Linked DNA regions of Homo sapiens: regions 2 and 3 are each linked to region 1. Evidence: fine-mapped QTL for protein levels in blood plasma. A gene starts in region 1. Each other region holds a variant in brackets. All regions are shown on one strand. Distances are from middle to middle.

Evidence for each region. A credible set is the group of variants that fine-mapping cannot tell apart. PIP is the posterior inclusion probability: the model's chance that the variant is causal. Protein levels are from antibody-based Olink assays in UK Biobank. Linkage for the fine-mapping came from a reference panel and not from the study's own genotypes, which makes the PIPs less certain.
Region 2: its variant is the best candidate, but not a certain one, in a credible set for the plasma level of the LYPD8 protein (UK Biobank, PIP 0.78).
Region 3: its variant is the best candidate, but not a certain one, in a credible set for the plasma level of the LYPD8 protein (UK Biobank, PIP 0.88).

Annotation. Positions count from the first base shown.
Region 1 is chr1:248,755,123-248,761,140 of GRCh38, reverse strand. LYPD8 (LY6/PLAUR domain containing 8) reads left to right here and starts at 5,382. Exons shown (of 7, transcript NM_001085474.2): 1 at 5,382-5,436; 2 at 5,755-5,902.
Region 2 is chr1:248,797,177-248,809,402 of GRCh38, reverse strand. LOC124904577 (a long non-coding RNA gene) reads left to right here and starts at 1,885. Exons shown (of 2, transcript XR_007067008.1): 1 at 1,885-2,354; 2 at 9,649-10,615. RefSeq lists enhancers at 3,941-4,150, 5,559-6,758. The variant C/T (reference allele first, on the strand shown) is at 4,682.
Region 3 is chr1:248,761,818-248,774,043 of GRCh38, reverse strand. It overlaps the pseudogene DPY19L4P1. Among named protein-coding and RNA genes, the nearest start is that of LYPD8, 12 kb to the right of the region's middle. The variant G/A (reference allele first, on the strand shown) is at 7,979.

The DNA.
Region 1 (6,018 bases):
TGAACTCCTGGCCTCAAGTGATCCGCCCACCTCGGCCTCCCAAAGTGCTGGGATTACAGGCATGAGCCACTGTGCCTACCTCTTCTTTTAATGTCTGATAGCATTTAGCTGTGAGTTTGTCTGGTCCTGGACTTCTTTTTATTGGCAACTTTTTAAAAAATTTACCATTTCAATCTCTCTGCTTGTTATTGGTCTGTTCAAATATTTTCTTTCTTTCTGGTTTAATCTAGGAGGGTTGTATATTTCCAGGAATTTATTTATCTCCTCTAGGTTTTCTAGTTTATGCATGTAAAGATGTTCATAGTAGCCTTGAATGGTCTTTTGTATTTCTGTGGTGTCGGTTGTGATATCTCCTGTTTTGTTCTAATTGAGCTGATTTAGATCCCCTCTTTTCTTTTTTTGGTTAGTCTCACTGGTGGTCTATCAATTTCATTTATCTTTTCAAAGAACCAGCTTTTCGTTTCACCTATCTTGCTACCAAATTGGCATATAAGTAAACAAGTACTCACAAATTAAGTCTAAATGGTTTTCAAGTTCATGTGAATCTTTGACAAATAAAACTGGCTTCAAAAATTATTAGTAAAATAATAAAAATGTCTTTAGAGTCATCAGCATACATTTCTGTCTAAATAAATTTTATATTGACCTCTGTGGTTATTAGGGAAATAACTTTAAATAATGACTAACTTTATATAATACCTTGGTTTTCAAGAGTAATCTAAATTGTTAAAAAATAAATTAATTAAATACATATACATGAGATAAATACCTATAAGTGGACTTTTTGTGTAATGTAAAATCTTAACATTATTTTAAATTAAATAACAAATGCTTATTGAATGTCTGGGTCATTTCCAATGTAAATAATTATTATATGAGAAAACATGGTTCTGAAATAGTGAAATAATTTTATCTATAAAATGCTAACATCTGACATACAGTTCAGATTTCTTGCTTCCCATTTTCACTAAAATTTAAGATTACTAGAAATAAAAATTCTAATTAATATATAATTCTGTAAATTGCATTTTATAAAAAATAATTTTGTGTAATTTGGAAGCCATTTTAAAATCATTTACTTGAAAAGGCAAAAAGAAACCAGAAGTGGGGAAGAGAGATGTGAAGAAAGTTATGGTATAAAGTTGCACCCGTAACTTTCACATATATATATATATATACTCGTAAATTAAGTCTAATAATACTGCTATGATTATTCATGTACAAGTTTTTGTATAAACAGTTGTTTTCATTCAATTATATTGGGTATATACCTAGGTGTGGAATTGCTGTGTCATGGGTAACTCTCTTAGAGGAACTGCCAAACTCTTTCCACAGTGGCTGCACCATTTTACATTCCTACCAGTAGTGTATGAAGGTTCCAATTTCTCCATATCCTTCCTAATGCTCGCAATTTTCCTTGCTTCCTTCTCTTTCTTTCTTTCTTTCTTTCTCTGTCTCTTTTTCTTTCTTTCTTTTTGATTTTATTTGTGTTAGTGGGCATGAAGTAGTATCTAATTGTGGTAGAAGTGTGTTCTGAGGCTGGACCTCACCTCAGACCATTGCCCTGTGCAGATGCGAATGTCCCTCTGGGCTGTGCAGTTGCCGATATGAGCTCAGAGAACAATGATAGCAGTAGTAGCCATTGTTTTTAGAGCCCTTTATGAAGTGATAGTTTCATCATCATTGTCGGCTTGTGCGACCTCCTTTGACCCTCAGAATAGCTACTCAGGCCGTAGTGCTGTTTTTGCCACTTGAAAGATGGGAAACCCAAGACTCGGGGGGATCATCATCTTACATAAGGCCATGGACTATTGGGGAAGTTTATCTTCCAGGATATGCTCATTTCCTCTGCAAGGTGACTGGGGGGCAGGAATGTTGGGGGCAATAATTCATTATTTTTAGCCTATTCTCACATCTCCAAGCGGGAGGAATGAGCTAGTCAATGAAAGGCTCCCAGAAGCAAACACAGAGAGAAGGCGGGTCAGGGGTGGATGCTCTTGATCCTTTTGCTGAGTCTTTGGCTTAGACTCCTGTTGGATATAATTCCTGCCCCAGCTTCCCTGACCTGACCCTACACACCTCCACATGCTTATTCCAAAATGGGGTAGGCTCCCCTGGAAACTCACCTCCAAGCTTTGCTGGTCATCAAGGGAAGCTTTGGGAAAAGGCCGTTTCCTAAAGTGGTTCCAGATTTACCACCGGATGACTCACTGGGACTCAGCTGAGCTCCAGGTTTGCCTCAGCTCAGCAGGCTGTAGGGACAGCCAACCTTGTCCCCTTCTAAGAAGATGATGGAACTAGGGTGCCTACGGTGTGCCCAGGGCTTCTTAGTTTAAAAGTTGGGCTGCTTGTTGCGACTTAGCTTCTCCTGGGTCTCTGGACTTCTTTGCTAGTCAGGAGGAGTCGGCTTTAGAGAGGTGCTTTTTCATAATTCCCTGTGACTGATTCAGGTCCTTGGACCCCACATTAATGACAGAGAGGTGAACCTCTGGGAGAGGGAGGAGTGGAGTCAAGTCGATGTCTCCAATCCTGCGGGTGGAGGCTGCGTCCCACCTGAGCCATGTTGAAATGGAAAGATTGCTGGCCCAGGCGTCTGAAGGCCTATAGGGAAGGCCTCCCTGGGCCTGTTTCCTTATCTGTCAAGGCAGCTGGGGGTACCCTTGGCGCACTGCCGGGGCTTCAAAAGGATGAACCCAGGACTGCTGTGAGCAGCCGTATAGACTGCGCAGCCTAGTTCAGGGGGCTTCCATTGTCTTCAGTGTCCTTACTGATAAATGGCTCAGTTAAAATCATACGTGCTATTAATAATAATTCCCACATGGTTAGACGTCCTCAGGACATTATTGATAGATAGATGGCCTTGGAAAAACACAGAGGAATGGGGTGATGATTCCAGGAGTAAATAAATCATCAGGAGGCATTTCTTCAGGGCCTGATGATTCCATTTTAAAGACAAAGAGCTCTGGCCCAACAAGTGCGGTTAATAAGTAACTTATGTGATGTGAGGGACAAAGTCTGGATTCAGACTCAGATCTTTGTGGTCGCTTTGGGTCCATTTGCCTGAGTATCTGGTGCCTTCTGAGAGGAATTAACATTGATCAGCCCGATTTTCTCATGCCAGTACTCAGCCTGACACCAGAGCTGTTATCTCAGAGGCAGTGTTCATGAGCTCTTTGGATCCTCCATCGGTGGCTCAGGGAGGCCACATTCCTGAAACCCGCAAGCCCACACACACCCCATTGGATATTACTGTGCCACTTCTCTTGTTGTGCCCTGCCAGGTGACTGACTAATGTGTGCTGGGAAACAATATGGTTCTGTTAGGGAGGAAGCTGCTTTTTTTTTTTTTTAGGAAAATGCTGTGATAAGCAGCCTGAAGGCAGATGGTGAGGAGAGGAGAGAATAAGAGATGGCCAGAGTCTCTGCTTATAAAAATAACTCAGATTTTGTCTTCTCCATGAGACCTACTACAACCTCCTCATTGAAAGTGGAAGCCTGCACCTGCTCACCCCCTAGCATGGTTGATGACTTATCCTACTCTTTGTCTTTTTGCCAGAGCAGTCACCACATTCTGACTTTCCCTGTGATTTGCTTATTTACCACTTTAATTTATGTTGTCTGTAGTCCTCTCTAGACTACACTCCAGGAGGGCAAAGGTCTTTGTCTTTTTGCTCACAAATACCTCCCGGTTTCCTACAGTAGGCCTAAGACAGGGAGGGTGCTCAAAAAATGTTTGTTGAATGAATGCATGAGTTTGGGGAAGGAAGAGAGAGCTGAGACACAGGTAGCGTAGCCATCCCCAAGGGGTATTTTCAAGAGCAGGGAACTGCAAGGTTTAAATGCAGGCTGGGGGATACTGGTATGATGTGTGCCCCTCAACCTCTGCATCCTCGGCTGAGTGGGCTCCTCCCACTCCCCACCGTGTGTGTATAAAGTGTCAGCACAGTGGAAAGATGAGGAGGGAAGATAACTCAAGTCCACACTCAAAACCAGGAGCACCCATGGCACAGTGTGAGGAGACTGGGAGAGTGTGAGGGTTAATATTGAGTGTCAACATGATTGGATTGAAAAGTATTGCAAAGTATTGTTCCTGGATGTGTCTGTGAGGGTGTTGCCAAAGGAGATTAACACTCGAGTCCGTGGACTGGCAGAGGCAGAGCCACCCTCAGTCTGGGTGGGCACCATCTGATCAGCTGCCAGCTCTGCTAGAATATAAAGCAGGCAGAAAAATGTCAAAAGGCTAGACTGGCCTAGCCTCCCAGCCTACATCTGGGTGGACATCATCTAATCAACTGCCAACACAGCTAGGATAAAAGCAGGCAGCAGAACGAGGAAGGACCAGACTGGCTGAGTCTCCCAGTCTCCATCTTTCTCCCATGCTGGATGCTTCCTTCCCTCAAACATCGGACTCCAAGTTCTTCGGCTTTGGGACTCTTGGGCCTACACCAGTGGTTTGCCAGGGGCTCTCAGGCCATCAGCCACAGACTGAAGGCTGCACTTTTGAGGTTTTGGGACTCAGACTGGCTTCCTTGGTCTTCAGGTCACAGACAGCCTATTGTGGGACTTCACCCTGTGATCATGTGAGTCAATACTCCTTAATGAACTCCCCTTCATACATATATAAACTCACCTTCTCTAGAGGACAGAGAACCTGACTAATACAGAGAGGCCTCAGTTGACCTGACCTGGGCTGTTACCAGTAGCTGCTCAGATCACTTGGCCAGAAAGACTCTCTCGATGGCTGCTGTGGGCTCTCACCCAGTGTGCAGAGCACACTGCAGGCAGGGGCTTCACGTCATGGTCCCTCTACCACACTATGAGGCTGCACAGTGAGTTTACACTCATCTTGGTTGGAGGACCCTCAAATCTAACAAGGTTAAGACACTTGCCTGTGGGAAACTGAGGCCCTTTCCTGAGTTGCACAGACCCCACATAGTCTGATTCGGAGCTCTGAGTTCTGACTGTGCCCCGGCTGTGTGCCCATGAGCATATCTCTTATGGCTCTCTTTCTGTGCTTTGGTTTTCTCATCTATAAATGGGCTAATCATGGTGACTGTTAGCAGGTTGTTAGGTGCTTGTCATTAGCAGGTCATGGAATTGACTTAGAAGGCCACAGACAATGCTGGAAGATACCTTACTCCTGTTTACATTTTGCCAAAGGCAGGCCTTGACCAAAGTTGTTCCCAATTCCTAGAGGTCTCAGAGAGGGCACGAGCTGCACAGATGCCAAAGGGTTGGGCAGCCTGTAGCTCTATTGGGCAGGGCACAGTCTGAGAGCCAGAAGCCTTAGCCTGTCTGACCCAGAGGTCCCACCCCAGAAGACAGCTGTGCTTTTTGATTTTACAGCCACCTGCTATATAAGGCCTCTCCCATACCAGCCCTAAGCCTCTACTGGGAACCACCTTCTGTAGGACAGTCACCAGGCCAGATCCAGAAGGTGAGAGGACTGCGAGGCCGGGGCCTGAGCCCTGGGAGAAGCTGAAACCGCAGGAAGGGCATTCAGGACCAGCTCAGGTCCTTCCCCGGCCAAGTCCAGGACATTCTTGCGGCTCTTGCTCCTTTGGCATTGCCCTAGGCAGTCGTATGCTCAGGAGAGGGAAGTCTGGAGTTCAGGGAGGATGTGGGCTGGGGATGTAGTTTTCTTGTTGTTTTGCCATCTGCTACTGTGTGTGTGGTTTGTGTGTAGTGTGTGCGTGTTCTGTGCATCATTCTGTGTGTGACATTCTTCATTCTGTGTGGTTTTGTGTCCTCACAGCCTCTCTAGGCTCCAGCTTTCTCTGTGGAAGATGACAGCAATTATAGCAGGACCCTGCCAGGCTGTCGAAAAGATTCCGCAATAAAACTTTGCCAGTGGGAAGTACCTAGTGAAACGGCCTAAGATGCCACTTCTTCTCATGTCCCAGGTGGGGGCCCTGCCTTGAGCCCCAGCTTCACTGGTCCCTCTTACCCACAGAGGTGTTGAGCACGGCCCTGGGTCCTGCTATGGGGTCACTCCCAGGCTCTGTTTCTCTGCTAGGTG
Region 2 (12,226 bases), 45 kb before region 1:
GGAGGTGAACAACATGGTATTTTGATGCACATAATGAAATAGGTATCAAATTGGCCTATCATTTTGCAGTTACCTCCCCCCTTTTTTGTTGTGAAACCGCCTAAAATCTACTCTCAGCAAATTTTCAGTCTATAATACAGTATTATAGTCCTAATGAAGGGCTTTCTGAGATGACACACAGTGCTGGACTTCCCTACCCAGTCACTGGCAGGCAGGACCTGTGAGGCTCCTGGTACAGAAGAGCCCTAGAAAAGAAGGGCTATGCCATGCACGTGCGTTTCTCCTTGCAAAATCACCTAGAAGATGCGGCAGGCGGGAAGAGAGACCAGGAAGGTTAGAGCCAATGGTACTTCTAAGGAGAAGAAGACAGAAGCCGAAGAGCTCCCTCCCTCCCACCCTCGTTGTAGTAACTTGTACTCATCCAGTGCATTTCACGTACCAGGAACGCCCCTAATTAATCTCTACAACAATGTTATAGGACAGATAAACACTATGATTTCCTTTCCACGGTAAGAAAATAAGGCACAATGGGGGGTACTCAGCCTTGCTGAAGGTAACGGAGGCGGCTCCCACTAGGCACTTGGACTCTAGAGTCCAAACGCTTGAACCACTGGGCTCACAGGAACAGGAGGTGAGGAAGTGGAGGTAGTCATCTCCGAGGAAGTTTTGCTGGGAAGAAGAGATGAGAAGTGGGAATACTGTTTCTTAGCTCCTTCTCCCAGCAAAGAGGGTCGAGAAATTTTGTTTAAGGTGAGGAAGAGATGGTCAAGGTGTGGGGGACATAGGGCCCCATCCCCCATTCCTGTACTGTGTCATGTTACATGTTACATTGGCCTGTTGGTAATGAATTGTTCTGATCTTCATCTTCCTCAAGTGTGGGGCTGGGGCCTCAGTCTACCCAACACCTGACACAGGCTCTCACCAACAGATGCTCAGGAAATGTGCTTTTGCTTCTTGCCCCTTCTCTTAGCCCACAGCTGTATCAGGTGGGTTTATCAGTACAGCAGTTTGGAGGTCAGGACCTGGTGATGCACAATCCCAGGATCACATCTCTATGGGAATTCTCAAATTTCATGACGCTTCAATTTTATCGCCTATAAAATGGGAGCATAGAGGCATGTGTGGCATGCTGCTACATCAGTGGATCTGAGGTGCAGCGATTCCTGTTAGCACCTCTTCACAGCCTCGGAGTGCTTAACTCACGGAGGCTTCATCCCATCTTGCGCTAGGCAAGTGGACTCTATGAAAGGGTTGTGTTTCCCTCCTCATCTGGATATGATTTTTGACAAGCATGACAACCCCACTGCCTTTTTAAAAATTTAATTTTTAATATTTATTTTATTATGAGACAGGGTTTTGCGCTGTTGCTCAGACTGGAGTGCAGTGGTGCAATCATAACTCACTGCGGCGTGGGACTCCTGGGCTCGAGCAATCTTTCTGTCTCAGCTTCCCTAGTAGCTACGACCACAGATGCACACCACCATACCCCGCTAATTTTTAACTTAATTTTTTTTTTCTCTGTAGAGATGTATTGCAGTGTTGCCCAAAATGGTTTTGAACTCTTGGACTTAAGCAGTCCTCCCTCCTTGACCTAAAGTGCTGGGATTACAGGCTTGAACCACTGCTCTTTGCCTTTTTTTTTGTTTGTTTTTGTGACACTCGTTCTAGCCCAGGCTGGAGTGCAGTGATGTGATCTTGGCTCACTGCAACCTCGACCTTCTCGGCTCAAGAGATCCTCCCACCTCAGCCTACCAAGTAGCTGGGACTACAGGTGTGTCCCACCATGCCCAGCTAATTTTTGGATTATTTTGGAGGCGGGGTTTCCCTGTGTTGCCCAGGGTGGTCTTAAACTCCTGGGCTCAAACGATCCCCCTACCTCGGCCTCCCAAATTGCTGGGATTACAGGCATGAGCCACCATGCCTGGTTATGCTTCCAGCCTTTAGACATCTTTTAAAATTGACATATTGTAATTGTACGTATTTGTGGGGTGTGGAATCAACCCATCTGTAGATGCTCCTACTCTGCCTGGCAGGAAGAGCGGAGATGACCTTCTTGGGCTGTCAAGGTCTTGCTGTGTCAGCAGGGGGCAGCAGCTACCAGAAAGTGCGCAGAGCCTGGGCTCTGCATTTCCCTGCGCGCACTGCGTGTTGACCCTCCAAGCCTGCGTGGTCAGCCTCATGGGCACTTTGCAGAAGGGCCTGAAAAACTGCACATAGAAGGGTGGGGGTGTGTATACATCAGAATGGAACCCTATTTGTACTTGTCATGGGCCTCTTGCATTCCCGTGTGTCCTCGGAATCACCTATTGCGTGTGAGAGCTGGCTCAAGTCTGCAGCGCAGCTGGTCTCAGGAGGTAAGATGTTCGATATGTAGATGTACCCTGTTCTCCTCAGAGCTCACCTCCTTCCTTGGCCTCCCTAGTGTCTTTTCCCTCTCCCTTTCCACAGCCTCTTTATAAATTTCTCCACCCACGCCTGCTCACCATTCCTGAGCCCCAGGCTGCAACACATTGCTCATGCCCTGGGATAAGGGAACCAGGAGACCATACACTGGCTGGCAAATGGATATGTGTAGTTTACTAAGAAATGTTCACCAGGATCTTTCAGTGTACAAACACTGTGGTAGGCCTTGTTAGGAACACTATAAACTGTAATGCCATGGGTGGGTCTTCCAGGTAAGGAATGCAGGTGTGCACAGGTGGTGCAGGGCAGTGAAAAATACATAACCAGGCCAGGAGCAATGGCTCACAGCTGTAATCCCAATGCTTTGGAAGGCCAAGGTGGGAGGCTCACTTGAGGACCAAGTTTGAGGCCAGCCTCAGCATCATAGTGAGAACCCGACTCTACAAAAAGTAAAAAAATTAGCAATGCGTGATGGCATGCACCTGTAGTCCTAGCTACTCCTGAGGCTAGTGGGAGGATCTCCTGAGCCCAGGAGTTTGAGGCTGCAGTGAGCTATGATCACACCACTATTTCAGAATGGGTGACAGAGGGACAACCTATTTCTAAAAATAAGTAAATAAATAACTAATGAGGGCTGCAGTCAAGGAAAAATCTGGGAGGTTACAGCTGGGCATTGCTCTCCGAAGCTCTGAACCAGCCCCTTGGTCTCAGACTGGAGAAGTGGTGCCTGGCTCCCAATCCTCACTCTTCCCAAATCTGTCTTGAGCTCCCAGGGCCTGTGTCTCACCCATCTTGGTGTTCTCAGGACCTGGAATGTGGAAATTTTCACCAAACAGCTGTCTACTGACTTACTTCTGCTTGTGCTACCCTTGGCACAAGTTTCCTCCCTTCTCAAACTGTCAAACTGCTGCCTGTGGTTTGAGGACCAGATCATGTGGTCAAAAGTCCACATGAGCTGGGATTCAACCACAGGCACCTCTCTAGCCCAGTCTGAATTAATCCTTATCACTCTCAAGTTCCCCATGGCTCTTTTGACTTACTGAAGAATGGGCCGGTTGTTGTAGACATGTCTCTTGTTGGTCCTAAGTCCTCAGAAGAAGGGGTCAGTATCATCCTTGACTCCATCTCACTCAACACATAACACAATAGACATATGTACAGGGACCATACGTGATGCATAGTCTAAATTGGGACAGCTGAGTGTGAAAGGGGGCAGGTGTGGCCTGGGACTGACTTGGGTGATCTAGGACATATGGTCACCCTCATTCTAGGTGCTCAGTAAACATTAGTTCTTTTGAGAGCTTCGGTGTTAAAAACACTGACCACACTATTCAGAGAGGGTTGCCCTTGGCCTGCCCCTGCCACAAGGGGTTATGTGCACAGGGACAATTCACTCAGCTCCTCTGGGCCTCAGTGTTCCAATCTGCCGGAAGTGTGGACAGACTCAGTAGATAACCTCTAAGGTTATCTAAAGCACTAAAATTATACAGCTGGCAGTGGAGGCTGGGCCATGCGAAGAGTTCTGATGGATGATGTGAAATGGTGCATGTGTTTGCAGACAGGGTTAGGGGTTGGAGCATGAGAAACCTGAGCAAGTCCAGAGTTGGTTAGGACCCAGCCCGGAGGGAGCAGAGGGCTGCTGGATATTTCTGCTTGGGTGTGAGATGATCATCGTCCAGAGGTCGAAGAGCTCAGAGTGCTGGGCAGTAGTTTCTCTTTCTCCAGGCAGGCAGGTGGCTTTCACTGCACAGTGCAGATACGCTTCTTGATTTATTCAAACATAGGAGGAAGGGAGTGTCAAAATGAGTTTCTTCCCCATTTAGAAAAGAGGAACCTTCTTGGTCTAGGGTAGAGTGGAGCAGCAGAGCTGCCTTCTTCCTCAGCTGCGGCTTCATCTTCCATGCTCCTTCCAGGCCACCCCATCCTGTTTCGTCTCTATGATTTCTGCAATAACATGCAGAAGAGCTGGATCATCTTCACACTGACACAAGGAAATCTCAGTTGTGCCACGGCCTGCTTTTTTCCAGCAGGAATTCTTAAGGGCCTGGGGGCCTGGGGCAGCAGTGAAGGCTGGAGGAGGCTCATGGAGCTGTACAGGTTCGCAGGGGCTGCTGTGGTTTAGGGAAGAAGGAGAGGATGTTGCTTAATGTCACCTGCCTTGTGTGCTAACCTCAGTGTTGCTATGGTTTCAGCCTCCCACTCCACTTGGAGAGAGAGGCCAGGAGCCCACCTGCCTCTGCAGCCCACCTGCCTCTGCAGCCCAGGGTGGGAATGTAAC[C/T]GTTGCTGCTGTACTCACATCTGACCTTCCTTCAGCTGATCTTCGCCCCTTTTACCAGATCTCCTCTTTCACTTTACAATTTCAGAAGCCTCAGATTACAATCCTCTCCATTCCCTCAAACAGTTGCATCTGGCAATAGTGACCATGGCTGCCCCATTGGAAGGGACTGTTAACAGAAAAGGGCATGAGGCCTTAGGAGGAGGGGAGCTACGTCTTCATAACACTAACAAAAACAAACCCGAGGTTAAATAAAGTGAACCAGGTATTTAGTTCACCTGCCACCTGGGATATACTTTTTAATTTTTTCTGGGTTGGTTAAAAATATATTTAGGGCCGGGCACGGTGGCTCACGCCTGTAATCCCAGCACTTTGGGAGGCTGAGGCGGGCGGATTACCTGAGCTCAGGAGTTGGCAACCAGCCTGGGCAACATGGCGAAACCCCTTCTCCACTAAAATACAAGAAATTAGCCGGGCTTGGTGGCGTCCACCTGTAGCCCCAGCTACTCAGGAGGCTGAGGGAGGAGAATGGCGTGAACCTGGGAGGCGGAGCTTGCAGTGAGCTGAGATCGCGCCACTGCACTCCAGCCTGGGTGACAGAGTGAGACTCCGTCTCAAAAAAAAAAATGTATATACATACATATGTATATATATTTAACGACACTTTCAGAGAGAATGTGACAGAGATAAAAGCTGAATAAGAATGACAGGAAAACTGATCTGGAAGCATAAATGATGAGGATGAGAGAAAACATCTGCAGCTAGACAAACCCAAAAGACTTGGAGAAAGTGACAAAAGTGAAGCAGCAGAGACGAGGAGAGACGTGAAAATACACGCTGGAGGGAGGGACATCAGAGACGAGAAGAGGAAAGCCTCATAGGTGACTGGGACATCAGAGATGAGAAGAGGAAAACCTCGTAGGTGACTGGGACATCAGAGATAAGAAGAGGAAGGCCTTGTAGGTGACCGGGACATCAGAGACAAGAAGAGGAAGGCCTCGTAGGTGACCAGGACATCAGAGACAAGAAGAGGAAAGCCTCGTAGGTGACCGGGACATCAGAGACGAGAAGAGGAAGGCCTCGTAGGTGACCAGGACATCAGAGACGAGAAGAGGAAAGCCTCGTAGGTGACCAGGACATCAGAGATGAGAAGAGGAAAGCCTCGTAGGTGACCGGGACATCAGAGACGAGAAGAGGAAGGCCTCGTAGGTGACTGGGACATCAGAGATGAGAAGAGGAAAGCCTCGTAGGTGACCGGGACATCAGAGACAAGAAGAGGAAAGCCTCGTAGGTGACCGGGACATCAGAGATAAGAAGAGGAAGGCCTCGTAGGTGACCGGGACATCAGAGATGAGAAGAGGAAAGCCTCGTAGGTGACTGGGACATCAGAGACAAGAAGAGGAAAGCATCGTAGGTGACCGGGACATCAGAGATAAGAAGAGGAAAGCCTCGTAGGTGACCGGGACATCAGAGATGAGAAGAGGAAAGCCTCGTAGGTGACCGGGACATCAGAGATGAGAAGAGGAAAGCCTCGTAGGTGACCGGGACATCAGAGATGAGAAGAGGAGAGCCTCGTAGGTGACCGGGACATCAGAGACAAGAAGAGGAAGGCCTCGTAGGTGACCGGGACATCAGAGATGAGAAGAGGAGAGCCTCGTAGGTGACCGGGACATCAGAGACAAGAAGAGGAAGGCCTCGTAGGTGACCGGGACATCAGAGATGAGAAGAGGAGAGCCTCGTAGGTGACCGGGACATCAGAGACAAGAAGAGGAAAGCATCGTAGGTGACCGGGACATCAGAGATGAGAAGAGGAAAGCCTCGTAGGTGACCGGGACATCAGAGATGAGAAGAGGAAAGCCTCGTAGGTGACCGGGACATCAGAGACAAGAAGAGGAATGCCTCGTAGGTGACCGGGCTGGTAGCACAAATGATACTCATACGTGCCAGGACTCTAGCTGAGCCCGAGTTAGATTTACAGCCCTCCTTATCTTGACCTATCTCCAAGTTCCTAGGTGAAGTGGCTGTTCCCAGTGCTGCCTGAATCCTTCAGCTGACTGCCGGCCAGAGGTTTATGGCTCTGATCAGGAAGATCACTGATGAGTCTTGTTTCAGACAGGTCCCACCCTCTGTTGGCTCCAACAGTGTTTGATATCCAACAATAGGAAACCAGATTCTGTGAGTGAACTCAAGCTATAGGCAGGACCCGTGGAAGGCACAGGGGAAAGGAGTTGTCTTCCCAGGAAATCTTGGATTTCCCCCTGGAAGTAGGTATCCTATGTACCAGGTGGGAGAGGACTGAGGAGAATGTGCCTTAGGACATGGCTGAGAGCCTCTCTACAGCTCTGCACCATTAATTCCGTGTGGATTTGTGTACCTGGAGCCCAGGGAAAACTAAAGCCCCTCTAATCAAAATGGTGTTTCTTTCTCGAGGTCCTGCTGGTTGTGAGAGATTTATGCTTCTGTGTGGGATATGTTCTTTCACCTATAAACATCAAAATCCCACAGTGAAATGGGAACAGAAAAATGTTTATTCCCCACCCAACCTTCATCTTAAACATGGTTCAATAGGAAGGTATCACTCAGAGACCCTGGCCCAGGGAGGATCCTTCTATGACTCTAGTTCCTAAAATGTGTTCTCTAGATCAACAATATAAACATCACCAGAAACTTGTTAGACATGCAAATTCTCAGCCCCCTACCTCCACTCCTCTGCCCACAGCAATACTGCATTAGAAATGCTGGGAGTGGACCCCAGCAGCTTTCAACAAACCCCTAGAGTGATTCTAGTGTACCCTGGAGTTTGAGAACCTCATCTTTCCGGCAGGTGGAAGGGATGTGGCAAACAGTGCACAGGGGTCCCAAGACTTGTCCCTTCACTCACCTTTCACTGGCCAAAGCAAGTCACCTGGCCTTGCTCCCCCATTGCCTTCTGCCATGATTGGATGCTTCCTGAGGCCTCCGCAGAAGCAGAAACCACTATGCTTCCTGTATAGCCTGCAGAACTACGAGCCAATTAAAACTCTTTTCTTTATAAATGACCCAGTCTCAGGTATTTCTTTATAGCAATGTGAGAACAGACTCTTGAAATATTTGCACACCCATATTGAAGCAGTATTATTCACAATAGTTAAGAGGTAAAAGCAACCCAAATGTCAATTGACAGATAAATGGACAAACAAAATACGTTATATACAATTGAATATTATTTAACGTTAAAAAGGAAGGAAATTCTGACATATGCTACAACATAGACTATCCTTGAGGACATTTTGCTAAGTGAAACAAGCCAGTCGCAAAAGAACAAATACTGTATGATTACACTTACATAAGGTATCTAGAATAGTCAAACTTACAAAAGCAGAAAGTAGAACAGTGGTAACTAGAGAATCTGGGGAGAGGAAAATGGGGTGTTGTTTAATGGGTAAAAATTTCCAGTTCTACAAGATAAAAACTTCTTTTGTAGATTGGTTGCATAGCAATGTAAATATTGTTAGCAAAACTGAATGGTAACTGGGTGCGGTGGTTCACGCCTGTAATCCCAGCACTTTGGGAGGCTGAGGCGGGCGGATCACGAGGTCAGGAGTTCGAGACCAGCCTGACCAACATGGTGAAACCCCGTCTCTACTAAAGATATAAAAATTAGCCAGGCATGGTGGCGCATGCCTGTAATCCCAGCTACTCAGGAGGCTGAGACAGGAGAATCGCTTGAACTTGGGAGGTGGAGGTTGCAGTGAGCCGAGATCATGCCACTTCACTACAGCTTGGATAACAGAGCAAGACCCTGTCTCAAAAACAAAAACAAACCAACCCAAAAAACAAAAAAAACCCAGAATGGTAAGCTTAAAAATGCTTAAGATGGTAAATTTTGTGTTATCCACTTTTTTTTTACCATAATAAAAATAGTATCTTGACAAAATTAATAGAAATCATACAAAGTATGTTTTCTGACCGTAGTGGGATTAAACCAGAAATCAATAACTGAAAGCTGGAAAATTACAGTATATTCGGAAATGAAACAAAAACTGTTCTAAATAAGGAATCAAGAAGTGTAAAGAAAAGTTTTTATATATTTAGGACAAATGAAAATGAAAATGCCACTTGTCAAAATGTGTGGGGTGCAGCAAGAGTGCATAGTGGGAAAGTTTTAGTAACATGTCTACATTAGAAAAGAAAATGAGCTAAAATCAATAACCCAGCGTTCCACCTTAGCACACTAGAGAAAGACAAACAAATTAAGCCTGAAGGAAGCAGAAGAAAAGGGATAATAAAAATTAGAGCAGAAATGAATGAATTTGAAGACAAGAAACAATAGAGAAAAATTAATAAAATCGAAAGCTGATTCTTTGAAAAGACTGGTAAAATTAATGATTCAGGCTAACCAAGAAAAACAGAGAGGAGACAAATTATCAATTTTATAAATGAAAGAATGTTAATCATCCCTTGGACATTAGAATGATAATAAAAAGATAATATGAATAAATCCATGCTCACAAATTGGATGATTTTGATGAAAGGACTGATTCCTTGAAAAATACAAATTGCCGAAATTCACAGAGAAGAAATAGATCAGCTGAACAGTTCTATATATTAAATAAATTAAATCATTAATTATTAACCTTCCAAAAAAGAAAACATCAGGTCCAGGTGGTTTCACTGGTAAATTATATCAAACATTGAAGGAATAACTGATACTAGTTTTCCACAATTTCTTCCATAACATAGAAGCAGTGGAACACTTCCTAGCACATTCTATGAGGCCCGCATTATCCTAGTCAAAATCAGATAAAGACACCAAAGAAAGGAAAACAATGGACCAGTATTTTTCATGAGCATAAATGTAAAAATTATCAACAAAATATTAGCAAATCAAAGCAAACAGTGTGTAAAAACATTTTATACCATGACCAAGTGGAATTTATTTCAGGTATGTAAGACTGATTTAACTTTCTTTCTTTCTTTTCTTGAGACAGAGTCTCGCTCTTGTTGCCCAGGCTGGAGTGCAATGGCACGATCTCGTCTCACCGCAACCTCTGCCTCCCAGGTTCAAGCAATTCTCCTGCCTCAGCCTCCCGAGTAGCTGGGATTACAGGCATGCACCACCAAGCCCGGCTAATTCTGTATTTTTAGTAGAGATGGGGTTTCTCCATGTTGAGGCTGGTCTTGAACTCCTGACCTCAGGTGATCTGCCCGCCTCAGCCTCCCAAAGTGCTGGGATTACAGGCGTGAGCCACCGCGCCCGGCTGACTGATTCAGGTTTCTAAACTGAGCAATATAATTTAGCACATCAGCAGACTAAAGAAGAAAAGCCATATGATTATATTGATTCAGAAAAAAAGTTTGACAAAATCAAACACCCATTTATGATAAAAATTCTCAGCAAATTATGAATTAGTAAAACTTCTTTAACATAGAATTGCTACAGAAAACATACAGCTAACTAACATCACACAGAATGATGAAAATGGCATGCTCTTCTGAGCTTGGAAACAAAGCAGGGTTGTCCTCTATTACCACTCCTATTCAACACTGTATTGGAAATCTTAGGTAGTGCAATAACACAAGAACGAGAAAAAAGTTACAGGTTAGAAAGGAAAAAATTAAACTCTATTTGCAGAAGATACAATTTTCTATGTAGAACATCTCAAAGAATTGACAAACAAAACAAACCAATTTATGGAAGTAAGTTAGCATTGCAAGGTCATGGGATACAAGACTAACATAAGAAGTCAATGACTAACTTGAGGAAGTTATGCTAAGTGAAATGTGCCAGTCACAAAAGACAAATATTGTATGATTCAACTTACATGAGATACCTAGAAGACAAATTCATAGAGGCAGAAAGTAGAATGATAGTTACCAGGGGAAAAAGGTGAAATGGGAAAGTCTTGTTTAGTGGGTATAAAATTTCAATTTCGCAAAATAAAAACGTTCTGTGGTTTGGTTGCGTGCTAAATGAGAATATACTTAACACCACTTACTGAACACTTAAGAATAGCTAAGATGGTAAATTTGGTGTAATGTGTATTTTACCATAATTAAAAATAATTTTTAAAATGGAATACAGATTTTCCCTGGCTTTTTTCAATGCAGTCCCAATCAAAATCCCAGAAGGTTATTGTAGATAGCAACAAACTAATTCTAAACTTTATATGAGAAGGCAGAAGATCTAGAGTAGCCAACACAATATTAAAGAAGAAGAACAAATTTGGAGGAACGACACTACCCAATTTCAAATCTTATTATACAGCTATAGTAATCAAGACAGCATATTATCAATTGAAGATAGTCACACAGATCAGTGAAACAGAATATAGAGAAGAGAAATAGATCCACATAAATATAGTCAACTGAACTTTGATGACAGGGCAAAGACAATTTAATGGAGAGAAGATAGCCGCCTTCAGTAAAAAGTGCTGGATAAATTGAACAACTGTATGCAAAAAAATGAACCTAGACAGAGACATTACACTTTATACAAAAGTTAGCTGAAAATAGACATACACATAAAATGCCAAACTATAAAGCTACTTGAAAAAAAATAGGAGAAAATCTGCATGACTTTGGGTTTGATGATGTGTTTTTCAATGGCACTATCCATGGAATAAAAAATTAACAAGTTGGACTTGCTAAAATTGAAAACCTCTGATCTGCTAAAGACATGGTTCAAAGGAAGGAAAGATAAACCACAAATTGTGAGAAAAATTTGAACAATAGACATCTGATAATATCAAAATATACAAAGAACTTGTATTTAAAATGTACAGAGAGTTCTTACAGCTCAACAAGAAAACAACCCAGTTCAAAAGTGGGCAAAAGATTTGAACAGACACCTTAAAAAAAGATATACAGATGGAAAATAAAAATATGAAACGGTGCTCAACATGATATGTCAGTAGGGGATTGGAAATTAAAACGGCAGTGAGATGCCGCTACACACTTATTAGAATATTCAAAATGCAAATAACTGATAATACTGACTGCTGGAAAGTTTGCAGAGCGAAATAAACTCACATTCACAGGTAGTGGGAATGTAAAATGGTACAACCACTTTGGGAGATAATTTGACACTTTCTTGCAAAACTAAACATAATCTTACCATGTAATCCAGCAATCACGTTCCTAAATTCTTACCCAACTGATTTGAAAATGTATGTCCACTCAAAAACCTGCATGCAAATATTTGTAACAGATTGATTCATAATCACCCACAACTGGGAGCAAGGAAGATGTCTTTTAATAGGTGAACGGATAACCAAACTGTGTTGCATCCATACAATGGAATAGCTTCTTATCAATAAAAAGAAATGAGATATCAAATTATGAAAATAAAAGAATCTTAAATGCATATTATGAAGTGAAAGAAGCCAGCCAGAAAAAAAACTGTATAATATATGCTTCCAATTATATGACATTCTGGGAAAGATAAAACTTAAAAGACCTTAAACACATTAGTAGATGCCAGAGGTTCTGGGGAAGGAAGTGAAGGTTAAATAGGTGAGGCACAGGAAAATTTATAGGGCAGTGAAACTTCTGTGTGATAATATAATG
Region 3 (12,226 bases), 9.8 kb before region 1:
GAGGCAGAGGTTGCAGTGAGCTGAGATCACACCACTGCCCTCCAGCCTGGGTGACAGAGTGAAACTCTGTCTCAAAAAAAATTACTTTATTTATAACATTTTTCATCAAAAATATACCTTGAATTGGGCAGGTCAGATAGTGGGGGCGTGATGGCTACGAGTGGGCCAGGGTTGGGGGGTTCCGCCAGGTGGAGGCAGGATAACTCCAGGCCGGGAGGGAGTTGGAGGGGTGCCCCACGCCCTGAGGGGACAAAGGCAGATGAATAAGGACCAATTGTAGAGCTGCATTAAAGAAAAATGCCAAAATCTTCAGAAAATAAGGAATCTGCCAAAGAAGAGAAAATCAGTGACATTCCAGTTTCTGAAGGAACTCCAAGACATGTATGATTTCAAGGCTTTGCAAAGATTTTCACTGGCTGTCTTGCAGCAGTTACTGGTGGTATGATGTATGATCTCTACTTATCTGTATACCACGAACAGAAATTCTGGTTTTCCAACAGGCAGGAGCTTGACCGGGAAATCACATTTCAGGGTGACAGTGGCATTTATTACTCATAAAGATGTGTTAAAGGCGCCTTCATTTGAAAGAGGTGTTTATGAACTGACACACAATAACAAAACTGTATCTCTGAATAGCATAAATGCAGTGTAGCAAATGTTTCTATATCCAGAACCTATTGCCAGCGTTTTATATCAAGCCACTGGTAGCAATGAGATTATTGAGGTGGAGTATTTCTATATTGGCATTGTTTTTGGAGTGTAAGGAATATATGTTATTGCTTTGTTTGTTACAAGTTGGCTTATGAATGGAACGTGGCTAGCAGGAATGCTTACTGTTGCGTGGGTCATTATTAACAGGGTAGATATAATACAAGAATTGAATACTCCATTCCTTTAAGAGAAAACTGGGCACTACCATATTTTGCATGCCAAGTTACTGGACTTACAGGCTATGAGAAAGCAACTTAAATACTTATGGAGAGAGGTTTTGCTACTTGCTGATGAGTGCTTCAATTTACACATTTATGATGATGGGGAGTACAGCCACTCTCCCGTTTCTTCAAGCCATAACTCTGTTCCTGCTAGATATCTTTTCACTGGAGCAAAGTGATGAGGTTTATGAAGTTTATAAAATCTATGTATTTTCTCTCTTCCTGGGATATTTACTGCAGCTAGAGAATCAACCTTTATTGGTATCTTGTTTATTAAGTTTGGTAGCAGTCTCAATGCTTGCTAAGTGCCTTTGCTGAATCTAAAGAAAGGAAACTTTGTAGCTAAAATAATGAAAGTGATTAATTTTTACTTGGTGTGTACTCTAACAGTGACATTGTATGTTATAATGAAGATGTTTGTCCTAAACAGAGAAAACGGGCTCATGCTGAAATTCCTTGAAGTTAAGTTTGGACCAAATATGGCTAAGAATTTTACAATGAATTGGCTCCTCTGTCAAGAATCTCTACAGGGGCCATCTCAGGATTTTGTGTGTGTGTGTGATTGACACAGTCTTCTTTATTACCCTTTTATATTTTAGTGTTAATTATTTATTTTGTTCCTATGTTGCAAGTTATTTTTAGGAGGATTAATGGTAAATCCCTGAAAGAAGCTGTTACTCTTGAAGATGAACGAATTGGTGACATTATTGGAGAAATTATTTCATAATTCACACTATTTTATTGGGTTCTCTTGTGATGGTTATAGAAGGCTTGAAGTACATCTGGATTCCTTATGTGTGCACGTTAGCAGGATTTGGTGTACGTTCTTCTGAACTTTGAACGACACTTTTCAAGTGGTGCTGATTAAGAACTGTATACCCAATGTGGTTGTCTCTCCCTGAGCATGGCTGTGCCTACTATAGTAGGTCTCAGTTTATAGAAAGAGCTTTTTTCCAAGATTAATGGCACAATTAACGGAGTGACAGGAATTCTACGACCCAGGTACAGTGGAACTTATGACATGGATAAAAAGGCCAGTTCCAGCTGCAACTGTGTTTGCAGGGAGTCCACAGTTAATGGGTGCGATGAAGTTATGCACTGGAAGGCTGGTGACAAGTTTGCCTCTTTACAATGATGATCTTCTCAAGAGAAATGAAAACATCTACCAAATACATCCAAAGCGATCTGCTGAGAGTATTTATAACATACCGACAGCCAACAAAGCTAATTACCTAATGGTAGAGGATACTATCTGCAATGAGTTGGGAACCAGAGAGGCTGTAGGGTTAAAGATTTATTAGACATTGAAAATGACCACATGGTTTGCAAAGAAGGTGACAAGCTAACCTACTCAAAATATGGGCAATTTTTTCATGAGGTCAGAATTAACTGTTCTCTATGTGTGAATTATCTCACTAGAGTATACTGGAACAGATCCTACTTTGTACACAAAATCAACACTGCGGGCCACGTGCAGTGGCTCACACCTGTAATCCCAGCACTTTGGGAGGCTGAGGCAGGCAGATCAAGAGGTCAGGAGATCGAGACCATCCTGGCTAACACGGTGAAACCCTGTCTCTACTAAAAAAATACAAAAAATTGGCCGGGCGTGGCGCTGGATGCCTGTAGTCCCAGCTACTCGGGAGGCTGAGGCAGTAGAATGGCGTGAACCCAGGAGATGGAGCTTGCAGTGAGCCAAGATCGTGCCACTGCACTCCAGCCTGGGTGACAGAGCGAGACTCCATCTCAAAAAAAAAAAAAAAAAAAAAAAAAATCAACACTGTGATGTCCTCCCAATCTTGAAAAATAACTGAACCTTAATTTCACAGACTACCTGAAGTAGAATGCAATTTTTTTCTACCTGCTCAGATCAAATAGGGACATTTGAAATATTGCCGCTGCTTCTCCCTACCTGCTGTTAACCGGATCCAGAGTTCTGTGGGAAACAGAAGATCAAACGTTACTGTCCTTTGATAAAATGTGATATCTACCACTCTGCAATATTTCAGACGGGTATCTTCTTTACTATTACCTGGTCTTTAAAGATTTTACTGATTGCAACATTTCCCCATAAATCTTCATTCTATTATAATGTTGATCTTGAATTTGATTATGTTCAAGGTCAGAATATATTTCTCAAACATAATTTTATAAATATTTAATGTGATATAATTATATAATAGAAGGAAAGAATTATTTCTACCACCAAGCAAGTTTCTGAAAATGTTTCATGATTTATAACAACTGAAGTTTTACAACAAAAGACTAATTTAAATGTTAGCTGAAAATACATGACATTTAAATTAAAATCAAAATTACATAAAGGGAAGTAAGTGATTTTTAAGGATATACATAAGGATATATCCAGAATTTTCAGGATACTCTTCTCATCATCTGCTGCTTATCTGAGTTACTTTCTTGGTAATACATAGTGCATGATATTATTGCATTTTTTTATGACTAGTAAGTGATTAGTTTTTTCACTTATACCTATTAATTTGATACCAATTTAATCATGATAAAACAACTGTTACCTATTATATGTATATATATATATATGTATATATATATATATGTGTATATATATATATATATATATATATATATATATATATATATATAAAATTTTGATTTCCATGGGTTATTGGGGAACAGGTGGTATTTGGTTACATGAGTACATTCTTTTTTATTTTATTTTTTTGAGACAGAGTTTCACTTTTGTTGCCCAGACTGGAGTGCAATGGCTCGATCTCGGCTCACCACAACCTCTGCCTCCTGGGTTCAAGCGATTCTCCTGCCTCAGCCTCCCGAGTGGCTGGGATTACAAGCATGGGCCACCGTGCCCGGCTAATTTTTTTGTACTTTTAGTAGAGACGGGGTTTCTCCTTGTTGGTAAGGCTGGTCTTGAACTCCTGACCTCAGGTGATCTGCCCTCTTCAGCCTCCCAAAGTGCTGGGATTACAGGCGTGAGCCACCACACCCAGCCACATGAGTACATTCTTTAGTGGTGATTTGTGAGATTTTGGCGCACCTGTCACCTGAGCAGTGCACACTGCATCCAATTTGTAGTCTTTTATCCCTCACCCCTTTCCACCCTTTCCCTGAGTCCCCAAAGTCCACTGTGTCATTCCCATGCCTTTGCATTCTCATAGCTTAGCCCCCACTTATGAGTGAGAACATACAATGTTTGGTTTTCCATACCTGAGTTACTTCACTTAGAATAATAGTCTCTAATCTCATTCAGGTCGCTGCAAATGCTATTAATTTATTTGCTTTAAGGCTGAGTAGTATTCCATCATATATGTATTTATCAGGTTATTTATGCACTTGTTGGTTGATGCGCATTTTGGTTGGTTCCACATTTTTGCAATTGTAAATTGTGCTGTTATAAACATATGTCTGCAAGTATCTTTTTTGCATAACAAATAATAATAATCTTTTTTGTATAATAATAAATAATAAATAACTTCCTTTCCTCTGGGAAAGTAGTGGGATTGCTGGATCAGGTGGTAGTTGTACTTTTAGCTCTTTAAGGAATCTCCACACTGTTTTCCATAGTGGTTGTACTAGTTTACATCCCCACCAGCAGTGTAGAAGTCTTCCCTGTTCAGCGCATCTCCATCAACATCTATTAGTTTTTAATTTTTTGATTATGGCCATTCTTGCAGGAGTAAAGTGGTGTTGCCTTGTGGTTTTGATTTGCATTTCCCTGATCATTAGCGATGTTGAGCATTTTTTGATACGTTTGTTGGCCATTTGTATATCTTCTGTTGGGAATTGTCTATTTGTGTCCTTAGCCCACTTTTTGATGGAATTGTTTGTGGTTTCCTTGCTGATTTGTTTGAGTTCATTGCAGATTCTGGATATTAGTCCTTAGTCGGATGTATAGATTGTGAAAATTTTCTCCCACTCTGTGGGTTGTCATTAACGCTGCTGATTATTTCTTTGTCTGTGCAGAAGCTTTTTAGTTTAATTAAGTCCCATCTATTTATCGTTGTTTTTGTTGCATTTGCTTTTGGGTTCTTGGTCATGAAGTCTTTGCCTAAGCCAATGTCTAGAAGGGTTTTTCTGATGTTATCTTCTAGAATCTTTATGGTTTCAGGTCTTAGATGTAAGTCCTTGATCCATCTTGAGTTGATTTTTGTATAAGATGAGAGATGAGGATCTAGTCTCATTCTTCTATATGTGGCTTGTCAATTATCCCAGCACTATTTGTTGGATAAGGTGTCCTTTCCCCACTTTATGTTTTTGTTTGCTTTGTCAAAGATCAGTTGGTTGTAAATATTTGGCTTTATTTCTTGGTTCTTTATTCTGTTCCATTGGCCTATATGCTTATTTTTTATACCAGTACCATGTTGTTTTGGTGACTATGTCCTTACAGTATAGTTTGAAGTTGGGTAAAGTGATGCCTTCAGATTTGTTCTTTTTGCTTAGTCTTGCTTTGGCTATGTGGGCTCTTTTTTGGTCCTATATGAATTTTAGGATTGTTTTTTCTAGTTCTGTGAAGAATGATGGTGGCGTTTTGATGAGAATTGTGTTGAAATTGTGGATTGCTTTTGGCAGTATGGTCATTTTCACAACATTGATTCTACCCATCCATGAGCATGGGATGTGTTTCCATTTGTTTGTGTCATCTATGATTTCTTTCAGCAATGTTTTGTAGTTTTCCTTGTAGAGGTCTTTCATGTCCTTGGTTAGGTATATTCCTAAGTATTTAATTTTTTTGTAGCTATTGTGAAAGGGATTGAGTTCTTGATTTGATTCTCAGCTTGGTCACTGTTGGTGTATAGCAGAGCTAATGATTTGTGTACATTTTGTATCCTGAAACTTTGCTGAATTCATTTACCAGTTCTAGGAGCTTTTTGCATGAGTCTATATGGCTTTCTGGGTATACAATCATACCATCCACAAACAGCAACAGGTTTACTTCTTCTTTACCAATTTGGATGCCCTTTATTTATTTCTCTTGTCTGATTCCTCTGGCTAGGATATCTAGTACTAAGTTGAATAGATGTGGTGAGAGTGAGCATCCTTCTCTTGTGGTAGTTCTCATGGGGAATGCTTTCAACTTTTCCCTATTCAGTATAATGTTGTCTGTGGGTTTGTCATAGATGGCTTTTCTAACCTTAAGGTATGCCCCTTCTATGTAGATTTTCCTGAGGGTATTAATCATAAAGGGATGCTGGATTTTGTCAAATGCTTTTTCTGCATCTCTTGATATGATTATGTGATTTTTGTTTTTAATTCTGTTTATGTGGTATATCACATTTATTGACTTACTTTTTTTTGTCAGTGTAGATTAGTTTGCATTTTCTTTTTTTTTAAATTATTATTATACTTTAAGTTTTAGGGCACATGTGCACAATGTGCAGGTTAGTTACATATGTACACATGTGCCATGCTGGTGTGCTGCACCCATTAACTCGTCATTTAGCATTAGGTATATCTCCTAATGCTATCCCTCCCCCCTCCCCCCACCCCACAACAGTCCCCAGAGTGTGATGTTCCCCTTCCTGTGTCCATGTGTTCTCATTGTTCAATTCCCATCTATGAGTGAGAACATGCAGTGTTTGGTTTTTTGTCCTTGCGATAGTTTACTGAGAATGATGATTTCCAGTTTCATCCATGTCCCTACAAAGGACATGAACTCATCATTTTTTATGGCTGCATAGTATTCCATGGTGTATATGTGCCACATTTTCTTAATCCAGTCTATCATCGTTGGACATTTGGGTTGGTTCCAAGTCTGCTATTGTGAATAGTGCCTCAATAAATATACGTGTGCATGTGTCTTTATAGCAGCATGATTTATAGTCCTTTGGGTATATACCCAGTAATGGGATGGCTGGATCAAATGGTATTTCTAGTTCTAGATCCCTGAGGAATCGCCACACTGACTTCCACAATGGTTGAACTAGTTTACAGTCCCACCAACAGTGTAAAAGTGTTCCTATTTCTCCACATTCTCTCCAGCACCTGTTGTTTCCTGACTTTTTAATGATTGCCATTCTAACTGGTGTGAGATGGTATCTCATTGTGGTTTTGATTTGCATTTCTCTGATGGCCAGTGATGATGAGCATTTTTTCATGTGTTTTTTGGCTGCATAAATGTCTTCTTTTGAGAAGTGTCTGTTCATATCCTTTTCCCACTTTTTGATGGGGTTGTTTGTTTTTTTTCTTGTAAATTTGTTGGAGTTCATTGTAGATTCTGGATATTAGCCCTTTGTCAGATGAGTAGGTTGCGAAAATTTTCTCCCATTTTGTAGGTTGCCTGTTCATGCTGATGGTAGTTTCTTTTGCTGTGCAGAAGCTCTTTAGTTTAATTAGATCCCGTTTGTCAATTTTGGCTTTTGTTGCCATTGCTTTTGCTGTTTTAGACATGAAGTCCTTGCCCATGCTTATGTCCTGAATGGTAATGCCTAGGTTTTCTTCTAGGGTTTTTATGGTTTTAGGTCTAACGTTTAAGTCTTTAATCCATCTTGAATTAATTTTTGTATAAGGTGTAAGGAAGGGATCCAATTTCAGCTTTCTACATATGGCTAGCCAGTTTTCCCAGCACCATTTATTAAATAGGGAATCCTTTCCCCATTGCTTGTTTTTCTCAGGTTTGTCAAAGATCAGATAGTTGTAGATATGCAGCGTTATTTCTGAGGGCTCTGTTCTGTTCCATTGATCTATCTCTCTGTTTTGGTACCAGTACCATGCTGTTTTGGTTACTGTAGCCTTGTAGTATAGTTTGAAGTCAGGTAGTGTGATGCCTCCAGCTTTGTTCTTTTGGCTTAGGATTGACTTGGCGATGTGGGCTCTTTTTTGGTTCCATATGAACTTTAAAGTAGTTTTTTCCAATTCTGTGAAGAAAGTCATTGGTAGCTTGATGGGGATGGCATTGAATCTATAAATTACCTTGGGCAGTATGGCCATTTTCACGATATTGATTCTTCCTACCCATGAGCAAGGAATGTTCTTCAATTTGTTTGTATCCTCTTTTATTTCATTGAGCAGTGGTTTGTAGTTGTCCTTGAAGAGGTCCTTCACGTTCCTTGTAA[G/A]TTGGATTCCTAAGTATTTTATTCTCTTTGAAGCAATTGTGAATGGGAGTTCACTCATGATTTGGCTCTCTGTTTTTCTGTTATTGGTGTATAAGAATGCTTGTGATTTTTGTACATTGATTTTGTATCCTGAGACTTTGCTGAAGTTGCTTATGAGCTTAAGGAGATTTTGGGCTGAGACAATGGGGTTTTCTAGATATACAATCATGTCGTCTGCAAACAGGGACAATTTGACTTCCTCTTTTCCTAATTGAATACACTTTATTTCCTTGTCCTGCTTAATTGCCCTGGCCAGAACTTCCAACACTATGTTGAATAGGAGTGGTGAGAGAGGGCATCCCTGTCTTGTGCCAGTTTTCAAAGGGAATGCTTCCAGTTTTTGCCCATTCAGTATGATATTGGCTGTGGCTTTGTCATAGATAGCTCTTATTATTTTGAGATACGTCCCATCAATACCTAATTTATTGAGAGTTTTTAGCATGAAGGTTGTGAATTTTGTCAAAGGCCTTTTCTGCATCTATTGAGATAATCATGTGGTTTTTGTCTTTGGTTCTGTTTATATGCTGGATTACATTGATTGATTTGCATATATTGAACCAGCCTTGCATCCCAGGGATGAAACCCACTTTATCATGGTGGATAAGCTTTTTGATGTGCTGCTGGATTTGGTTTGCCAGTATTTTATTGAGGATTTTTGAATAAATGTTCATCAAGGATATTGGTCTAAAATTCTCTTTTTTGGTTGTGTCTCTGCCCGGCTTTGGTATCAGGATGATGTAGGCCTCATAAAATGAGTTAGAGAGGATTCCCTCTTTTTCTATTGATTGGAATAGTTTCAGAAGGAATAGTACCAGTTCCTCCTTGTACCTCTGGTAGAATTCGGCTGTGAATCCGTCTGGTCCTGGACTCTTTTTGGTTGGTAAGCTATTGATTATTGCCACAATTTCAGATCCTGTTATTGGTCTATTCAGAGATTCAACTTCTTCCTGGTTTAGTCTTGGGAGAGTGTATGTGTCGAGGAATGTATCCATTTCTTCTAGATTTTCTAGTTTATTTGCATAGAGGTGTTTATAGTATTCGCTGATGGTAGTTTGTATTTCTGTGGGATAGGTGGTGATATCCCCTTTATCATTTTTTATTGCGTCTATTTGATTCTTCTCTCTTTTTTTCTTTATTAGTCTCACTAGCGGTCTATCCATTTTGTTGATCCTTTTAAGAAACCAGCTCCTGGATTCATTAATTTTTTGAAGGGTTTTTTTAAAATCTCTATTTCCTTCAGTTCTGCTCTGATTTTAGTTATTTCTTGCCTTCTGCTAGCTTTTGAATGTGTTTGCTCTTGCTTTTCTAGTTCTTTTAATTGTGATGTTAAGGTGTCAATTTTGGATCTTTCCTGCTTTCTCTTGTGGGCATTTAGTGCTATAAATTTCCCTCTACACACTGCTTTGAATGTATCCCAGAGATTCTGGTATGTTGTGTCTTTGTTCTCATTGGTTTCAAAGAACATCTTTATTTCTGCCTTCATTTCGTTATGTACCCAGTAGTCATTCAGGAGCAGGTTGTTCAGTTTCCATGTAGTTGAGCGGTTTTGAGTGAGTTTCTTAATCCTGAGTTCTAGTTTGATTGCACTGTGGTCTGAGAGACAGTTTGTTATAATTTCTGTTCTTTTACATTTGCTGAGGAGAGCTTTACTTCCAACTATGTGGTCAATTTTGGAATAGGTGTGGTGTGGTGCTGAAAAAAATGTATATTCTGTTGATTTGGGGTGGAGAGTTCTGTAGATGTCTATTAGGTCTGGTTGGTGCAGAGCTGAGTTCAATTCCTGGGTATCCTTGTTAACTTTCTGTCTCGTTGATCTGTCTAATGTTGACAGTGGGGTGTTAAAGTCTCCCATTATTATTGTATGGGAGTCTAAGTCTCTTTGTAGGTTACTCAGGACTTGCTTTATGAATCTGGGTGCTCCTGTATTGGGTGCATATATATTTAGGATAGTTAGCTCTTCTTGTTGAATTGATCCCTTTACCATTATGTAATGGCCTTCTTTGTCTCTTTTGATCTTTGTTGGTTTAAAGTCTGTTTTATCAGAGACTAGGATTGCAACCCCTGCCTTTCTTTGTTTTCCATTTGCTTGGTAGGTCTTCCTCCATCCTTTTATTTTGAGCCTATGTGTGTCTCTGCACATGAGATGGGTTTCCTGAATACAGCACACTGATGGGTCTTGACTCGTTATCCAATGTGCCAGTCTGTGTCTTTTAATTGGAGCATTTAGTCCATTTATATTTAAAGTTAATATTGTTATGTGTGAATTTGATCCTGTCATTATGCTGTTAGCTGATTATTTTGCTTGTTAGTTGATGCAGTTTCTTCCTAATCTCGATGGTCTTTACATTTTCGCATGATTTTGCAGTGGCTGGTACCGTTTGTGCCTTTCCTTGTTTAGTGCTTCCTTCAGGAGCTCTTTTAGGACAGGCCTGGTGGTGACAAAATCTCTCAGCATTTGCTTGTCTGTAAAGTATTTTATTTCTCCTTCACTTATGAAGCTTAGTTTGGCTGGATATGAAATTCTGGGTTGAAAATTCTTTTTTTTAAGAAGTTGTATATTGGCCCCCACTCTCTTCTGGCTTGTAGAGTTTCTGCCGAGAGATCTGCTGTTAGTCTGATGGGCTTCCCTTTGTGGGTAACCCGACCTTTCTCTCTGGCTGCCCTTAACATTTTTTCCTGCATTACAACTTTGGTGAATCTGACAATTATGTGTCTTGGAGTTGCTCTTCTCGAGGAGTATCTTTGTGGCATTCTCTGTATTTCCTGAATCTGAATGTTGGCCTGCTTTGCTAGATTGGGGAAGTTCTCCTGGATAATAACCTGCATAGTGTTTTCCAACTTGGTTCCATTCTCCCCGTCACTTTCAGGTACACTAATCAGACGTAGATTTGGTCTTTTCACATAGTCCCATATTTCTTGGAGGCTTTGTTCATTTCTTTTTATTCTTTTTTCTCTAAACTTCCTTTCTCACTTCATTTCATTCATTTCATCTTCCATCACTGATATCCTTTCTCCCAGTTGATCGCATCGGCTCCTGAGGCTTCTGCATTCTTCACGTAGTTCTCAAGCCTTGGCTTTCAGCTCCATCAGCTCCTTTAAGGACTTCTCTGTATTGGTTATTCTAGTTATACATTTGTCTAAATTTTTTTCAAAGTTTTCAACTTCTTTGCCTTTGGTTTGAATTTCCTCCTGTAGCTCGGAGTAATTTGATTGTCTGAAGCCTTCTTCTCTCAACTCGTCAAAGTCATTCTCCGTCCAGCTTTGTTCCATTGCTGGTGAGGAACTGCGTTCCTTTGGAGGAGGAGAGGTGCTCTGCTTTTTAGAGTTTCCAGTTTTTCTGCTCTGTTTTTTCCCCATCTTTGTGGTTTTATCTACTTTTGGTCTTTGATGATGGTGATGTACAGATGGGTTTTTGGTGTGGATTTCCTTTCTGTTTGTTAGTTTTCCTTCTAACAGACAGGACCCTCAGCTGCAGGTCTGTTGGAGTTTGCTAGAGGTCCACTCCAGACCCTGTTTGCCTGGGTATCAGCAGCGGTGTCTGCAGAACCGCGGATTTTCGTGATCCGTGAATGCTGCTGTCTGATCGTTCCTCGGGAAGTTTTGTCTCAGAGGAGTACCCGGCCGTGTGAGGTGTCAGTCTGCCCCCACTGAGGGGTGCCTCCCAGTTAGGCTGCTCAAGGGTCAGGGGTCAGGGACCCACTTGAGGAGGCAGTCTGCCCGTTCTCAGATCTCCAGCTGTGTGCTGGGAGAACCACTGCTCTCCTCAAAGCTGTCAGACAGGGACATTTAAGCCTGCAGAGGTTACTGCTGTCTTTTTGTTTGTCTGTGCCCTGCCCCCAGAGGTGGAGCCTACAGAGGCAGGCAGGCCTCCTTGAGCTGTGGTGGGCTCCACACAGTTCGAGCTTCCGGCTGCTTTCTTTATCTAAGCAAGCCTGGGCAATGGTGGGCGCCCCTCCCCCAGCCTTGCTGCCACCTTGCAGTTTGATCTCAGACTGCTGTGCTAGCAATCAGTGAGACTCTGTGGGCGTAGGACCCTCTGAGCCAGGTGCGGGATATAATCTCCTGGTGCACCATTTCCTAAGCCTGTCAGAAAAGCGCAGTATTCGGGTGGGAGTGGCCCGATTTTCCAGGTGCCGTCTGTCATCCCTTTCCTTGACCAGGAAAGGGAACTCCCTGATCCCTTGTGCTTCCCGAGTGAGGCAATGCCTC